Homo sapiens: one gene and its partner. The protein of the gene in region 2 interacts with the protein of the main gene of each other region in a biochemical or structural test. Each region holds a gene or a part of one and is shown on either strand. Other genes may lie near its edges.

Region 1 (3,500 bases), on a different chromosome or scaffold from region 2:
GCTGGTCTTGAACTCCTGACCTTAGGTGATCCACCCGCCTTGGCCTCCCAAAGCGCTGGGATTACAGGTGTTAGCCACCGCGCCCAGCCTGCAAGAACTGTTTATGTCTTCTGGGCTTCTGTTACTGCTTGAATCAAAGCACTTGTATTGTTGATCTTTTTTCAGTATTGGGTTTTGCTTAAGAGTACATTGCTTCAGAGCTCTTCACAAATTACTGCTCTAATCCACATGACTAGGCAATAAGGTGCTCCACCTTTGAATCCTTAAACATCAGTGTGGTATTGGAGTTGAATAGCTCATACTGGATGGTCTGCCTTTCCTGACAGCTTTTACTTCTGGCGGATAAAATTTATAGCCATCTGAGGAAAGGAGGCCCATGAGCAGCATTTAAAATCTTTATTCTCCCCTTTTTTCTTCACACCTTGACTTAGGTTGGAAGTTGTGGTTGTATTGGCTTTAGAACATTCCTCAAGTTCTCATTGGAATTGACTTGACTGTTGTGAGTTAAGAGAATGCAGTATGTAGTTATAGGAGATAAGATCGATAAAAGTGACCTAGTTATTTAACTATCAGCATAGCAGACCTAGAATATACTGAACTTTCGTCTTAGGCACCACTATAGTAGCCCAGCTTTTTATCAATTTTATATATGCTTCCTAATAAAACTGTCTCAATAGAGAGACTAAAAATGTGTGACTAAGAATTATATTAAAAAATTCAAACTAATGGAAGTAAGTCAAAATATATTTACTAGCAAAAGGTGAGCAAGAACCCACTCAAATGATCACAATTCCCACTTACCCCTTCAGCTTGCTTTCTTAGTGAATTTTAGAAACTTAGGTGGGGAAGAAGCTTAGGATTTAGGTGACAGAAGGTGTAGTGGTACTTTCTTTTTTTTGAGATGGAGTCTCGCTTTGTCGCCCAGGCTAGAGTGCAGTGGTGCGACTTTGGCTCACTGCAAGCTCTGCCTCCTGGGTTCATGCCATTCTACTGCCTCATCCTCCTGAGTAGCTGGGACTACAGGCGCCCGGCTAATTTTTTGTATTTTTAGTAGAGACGGGGTTTCACCATGTTAGCCAGGATGGTCTCGATCTCCTAACCTCGTGATCCACGTGCCTCGGCCTCCCAAAGTGCTGGGATTACAGGCGTGAGCCACCGTGCCTGGCCTGATACTTTCTTAAAGTAGGAAATGGTGCAACACCACATCCATAAGTCAAGAGTGATTTTTATCAGCTGGTTTCCGTCTTTCGCTAAGAAGATGGCTATGCTAGCTCTTGCTGGAGTTGGCTCTTCTTTTTATATTCTGTTTAATTATTTGCTATAACTTAATAAATGCCCATCCAATACAACAGAGCCAATGGTAGATGTATCAGGCACACTTTTATACAATATGCCAATGTTTTGCCTCTTGAGAACTTAATATAATCTTAGATTGTCCTGAGATTCTTTGCTTTTGTTGAAGTATTTTATGTGTGTGGATTTGATCTTAATCTTTTCAATTTCTTGTCCTTTACAAGATTTCCCCTCAGAGGGTACTCTCTGTAATTATTTGTAATGAAAACACTTGGACCAAAGTTCATTTTTTGGTCTTTTGATGTGAAGATTTCTTAGACTAAGGTGGTCACTATCCTGTTTTCTTATTTTTCCCTCTCCTCTACTCCTTCCTCACTAACATGCAGGAAGCCTGTCTAGCAGTCCAGAGGAGATGTCTGGAGCTGAAGAGGGGAGGGAGACATCCTCAGGCATTGAAGTGGAGGCCTCAGACCTGAGTTTGAGCTTGACTGGGGATGATGGTGGCCCCAACCGCACCAGCACAGAAAGTCGAGGCACAGACACAGAGAGCTCAGGTGAAGATAAGGACTCTGACAGCATGGAGGACACTGGTCATTACTCCATTAATGATGAAAATCGAGTCCATGACCGCTCAGAGGAAGAGGAAGAGGAGGAAGAAGAGGAGGAAGAAGAGCAGCCTCGGCGCCGTGTACAGCGCAAGCGGGCTAACCGTGACCAGGACTCATCAGATGATGAGCGGGCCCTAGAGGACTGGGTGTCCTCAGAAACATCAGCTCTACCCCGACCTCGCTGGCAAGCCCTCCCTGCCCTTCGGGAGCGGGAGCTGGGTTCAAGTGCCCGCTTTGTCTATGAGGCCTGTGGGGCAAGAGTCTTTGTGCAGCGTTTCCGCCTGCAGCATGGGCTTGAGGGCCATACTGGTTGTGTCAATACCCTGCACTTTAACCAGCGCGGCACCTGGCTGGCCAGTGGCAGCGATGACCTGAAGGTGGTGGTGTGGGATTGGGTACGGCGGCAGCCAGTACTGGACTTTGAGAGTGGCCACAAAAGTAATGTGTTCCAGGTGAGGCAAGGGAGCATAATAGCAACTGAGAGAATCAGGCATGAGTTAGAGAAATCTGAACTGCAGCATGGATTGGGAGCTGATAGTGAGTTATTGTAGGAATTACATATCGGGACATGGCCCTACTTTGGCTCCCCTAATGACCTAAATACACTGAAAGACTCTTGGCAACCCTAGATTCCTTGAGCATGTGGACTGTTGGAAGCCTCATAGGTAGGGTGCATGCAGCTTATTAAATGTGTGCTGGTAGGAGGCAGTGTAGTATAAGCACAGGCTCTTGAACCAAACTGCCTGAGTTCAAATCCTAGCCCTTCTGCTTACTAGCTCAGTGATCTTGGCCAAGTTATTTTACCTTTGTCTTCAGTTTATCTGTAAAATGGGACTAATAACACATAGGGTTATGAGGATTAAGTAACAATAGAAGCTAAGCAGTTAGAACTGTGACTGGTACTTAATAAACATTTGATAAATGTTAGCTTATACTGTTGTTATTCTGGAAAGATTTTACTCCTTGGCCCCATCTACTGTACTGGTACCAGCCATTTATCCTAAGGGTGTTCTCTTTTCTTCCCTGACATTCCCCCTATTTTCCTTTTTCTTTGTAGCAAATTTATATTTACTTTCTTAATCAAAGTAGATTTTTCCTCCTCTATTCCTTTTCTCCTCTGCTAGATACAGTCCTAGTTCATCTGAGCTCTTATCATGTGCCAGTTCAATCTTCCAGAGCCAACTGAAATGCTCTCTTACATCAAAGGAAGTTTTTTCTCTCCCTTTCCTTTAACTCCTGGAAGAAATTGGGCTTAGCCAGCTGTACAAGAGTAGGAAAGCTAAGTTTCCAGCTGTCATGTAAGAAAAGGGGGTAAGTTGAGGTCATCATCGTATTTTTTATTCTCAAGTTTACCTCTCTCATTTCTTTTGTGTGTCCTTTTTTTCATTTTTAACACCCCAGGCCAAGTTTCTTCCTAACAGTGGTGATTCTACTCTGGCCATGTGTGCCCGTGACGGGCAGGTTCGAGTAGCAGAACTGTCTGCCACACAGTGTTGCAAGAATACAAAACGTGTGGCCCAGCACAAGGGAGCGTCCCACAAGGTAAGTAAGACCTTGCTCCAAAATTTGTGCAATCCAAATCCTCTGTGGTTCTCAGCC
Region 2 (3,302 bases):
GGTCATCGGTAGTAAAAAAGGAGTCAAATAATATTGAATCAACAGGTTAGTTTATCCACTGGCTACTGCATATGACACCAAATGCTGCAAGGCCAACATTCTATGCAATATAGTTGTACTGGTTTGGATTTTCTTTATCTCTTTCCATGTAGTCCCGGTCAATTAAAGATTCTATTCTCTTCTTAAGATCAGCAGGCTGTAAGAGAAGGCAAATTTTCAATGTAAAGTTCATTATCATTGGCTCAAGCCCATTTAGTTAATACCCCATTAAAAAGACAACAGTTTCGGCTCATGAATTTAATCTCCTTTTTTAAAATTTTTATTTATTTAAATCTCTTTTTTAGAGAAAAGTATCATGAAAATAAACCAGGTTAAAAAATGTTTTATACACGTTGAAGATTCTTTTTTTTTTTTTTTGAGACGGAGTCTCGCTCTGTCACCCAGGCTGGACTGCAGTGGCACCACTTTGGCTCACTGCAACCTCCACCTCCTGGGTTCAAGTGATTCTTCTGCCTCAGCTTCCCGAGTAGCTGGGACTAGACACAAGCCACCACGCCTGGCTAATTTTTGTATTTTTGGTAGAGATGGGGTGTCACCATATTGGCCAGGCTGGTCTTGAACTCCTGACCTCAGGTGATCCACCTGCCTCAGCCTCCCAAAGTGCTGGGATTACAGGGATGAGCCACCGTGCCCAGGTATGTTGAAGATTCTTTAACGCCAAAAGTGTTTTTGATTTTTGATTTTTTTTTGGAGCTTTTAATTTTTTTAATAGACAGGGTCTTGCTATGTCGCCCAGGCTGACCTTAAACTCTTGTTCTGGAGTAATCCCCCCAGCCTCAGCCTCCCAAAGTACTGGAATCCCAGTACTCACAGGTGTGAGCTACCATGCCTGGTCCTGACTTTTTCATTTTGGTATATTTGCATATACATAGTGAGATACCATGGAGATGGGACCCAAGTCTAAACACAAAATTCATCTATGTTTCATACATACCTTACATAGCCTGAAGATAATTTTATACCTTTTGTGCATGAAACAAAGTTTTGACTGCAACCTGTCAAATGAGGTAAAGTGTGGAATTTTCCACCTGTGGCATCATGTTGGCATTCAAAGTTTCCAATTTTAGAGCATTTCAGATTTTGGATTCTCATTAAAGGTGTTCAACCTGTACTATATACTATACATACATTAAACTGTCACATCCTTGTCATATTGTTACGGAATACTTTCTATTACTTTTCTATTTTAAAGAGGTCATGCCAGAAGCAGCTACCCTTCGCGTGGTTAAATACAAAAGACTACATTTATTGTAACTTCACATGAGCACTGTAAGGTAGTTTAAGGACACAGAATACTAGTTTTGTCAAGATAGTTCATGAAGCACACCTTTACTTTGGGCAAGAGTTAGTTGGCTTCATTTTTATAAATTAAGATTTAAAACGTACTGATGAAATCACTATTTAGACCGGGTGTGGTGGCTCATGCCTGTAATCCCAGCACTTTGGGAGGCTAAGATGGGTGGATCACCTGAGGTCAGAAGTTTGAGACCAGACTGGCTAACATGGCAAAACCCCATCTGTACTAAAAATACAAGAATTAGCCAGGTGTGGTGGTGGGCGCCTGTAGTCTCAGCTACCAGGGAGACTGAGGCAGGAGAATTGCTTGAACCCGGGAGGTGGAGGTTGTAGTGAAACGTGATCGCGCCACTGCACTCCAACCTGGGTGACAGAGCAAGAAGACTCCATCTCAAAAAAAAAAAAAATCACTATTTAAAAGAATACTGGACAGGTGCAGTGGCTCATGCCTGTAATCCCAGCACTTTGGGAGGCTGTGGGCAGATCATGAGGTCAGGAGTTCGAGACCAGCCTGACCAATATGGTAAAACCCCGTCTCTACTAAAAACACAAAAATTAGCCAGGCGTGATTGTGCGCACCTGTGGTCCCAGCTACTCGAGAGGCTGAGGCAAAAGAATTGCTTGAACCCGGGAGGCAGACGCTGCAGTGAGCCAAGATCATGCCACTGCACTCCAGCCTGGATGACAGAGCGAGACTCCATCTCAAAAAAAAACTACATGAAATGGCTTGATAAATGAAGTACCTCATAATTTAGATCTTCATATTTCTGGTTTAGTGCATCTAAGTGACTTGGATTTCTGCATCCTGTGATTTAAAAGTAATCAAGAAAGCTTGTAGCTTTATCTTCATGATTGCATTCTAAGCTCCTGGATGACAAAATTCCACTATATATCTTATGTATCTAGTCTGTAAATATAATATAATCTTGTTTGCTAATAGAAAGTTTTTCAGGATAAGTAAAATGACCACTTGTTCAAGAGGGGAAAAGAGGGGAAGTAGTCTGATACAGCAGTGAAAATTTTATCCAGTAATCCCAAGGTTGGGAAATCAGATGACTTCTCTTAATTATGGTGAAAGACCTAGAATATCAGCACAATATTAACTACAGCGATCCCCTAATTTCCCCAGCATCAGTGATCTCTCTGGCTTGAGGTGAAATGACTATTAAGCAGAGCATGAGGGTGAGAGGGTGGTAATGAGGAGTGCGATATTAGGTTTGGAGAAAAGAAAATGCTTACCTTATTAGAACTAAGAGCTACCGAGTGCTTATTATGTACCAGGTCCAGTGCTAAGATTTTTACATTCATGATCTCACTTAAACCTCACAATAATCCTACAAGGTAAGTACTATTATTATCTCAGTTTTACAAAAGAGGAAACAAGATCAGCATGGTGAAGTGATTTATGAAAGTCCAAAGCTCATAAGAACCCTAATAGCTAGCAGTCTATTCAAACTCTATCAATGTTTATCATCCAAGGGTTTGGCTATCTACCTCCTAAAACTTGGAAAAAAGGCCAGTACAACATCACATTAAGTGACTTTATTATTGGTCATTCACAATGGAACGTTTCCATTTAATGACCAATTTCAGTTTACCAGAACTATCACTACACTTTTCAAAAAGATGCTTAATCATGACTAGTTATCTGTATGGTTTTTAACAGATGATCTCTTATATAAGCTAACTAAACAGGAGATTTAACTCAATCCACAATAACTAAATCTGTCAAATACCATGGTATTTCAATAAATACCATGGTATTTCAAGAGGAAAAGAAGTAAATAACCAACCAAGAAGTTCAAAAGAAATATAGTGAATAAACTTGAAAATTTCAAACACTCATTTAGCAGTTAAACTTTCAGGTATCCAGGCTTTTCTGTTATTTTTCCCTTTTGTCACTGCTGCCCACATATGCCAACAAAGTTTTTTTTTTTGGAAATCAT

Evidence for each region. The genes of interacting proteins can lie anywhere in the genome.
Region 1: the proteins of CUL4B (region 2) and DCAF8 form a complex in vitro, tested with the Homo sapiens proteins (one study listed by BioGRID).

The regions. Positions count from the first base shown.
Region 1 is NC_000001.11:160,238,550-160,242,049, reverse strand, and holds part of DCAF8 (DDB1- and CUL4-associated factor 8), read left to right. Parts: intron 1-1,679; coding exon 1,680-2,353; exon of another isoform or gene 2,354-2,828; intron 2,829-3,302; coding exon 3,303-3,443; intron 3,444-3,500. UniProt on the Homo sapiens protein: May function as a substrate receptor for CUL4-DDB1 E3 ubiquitin-protein ligase complex.
Region 2 is NC_000023.11:120,526,661-120,529,962, forward strand, and holds part of CUL4B (cullin-4B), read right to left. Parts: intron 197-3,302; coding exon 101-196; 3' UTR 1-100.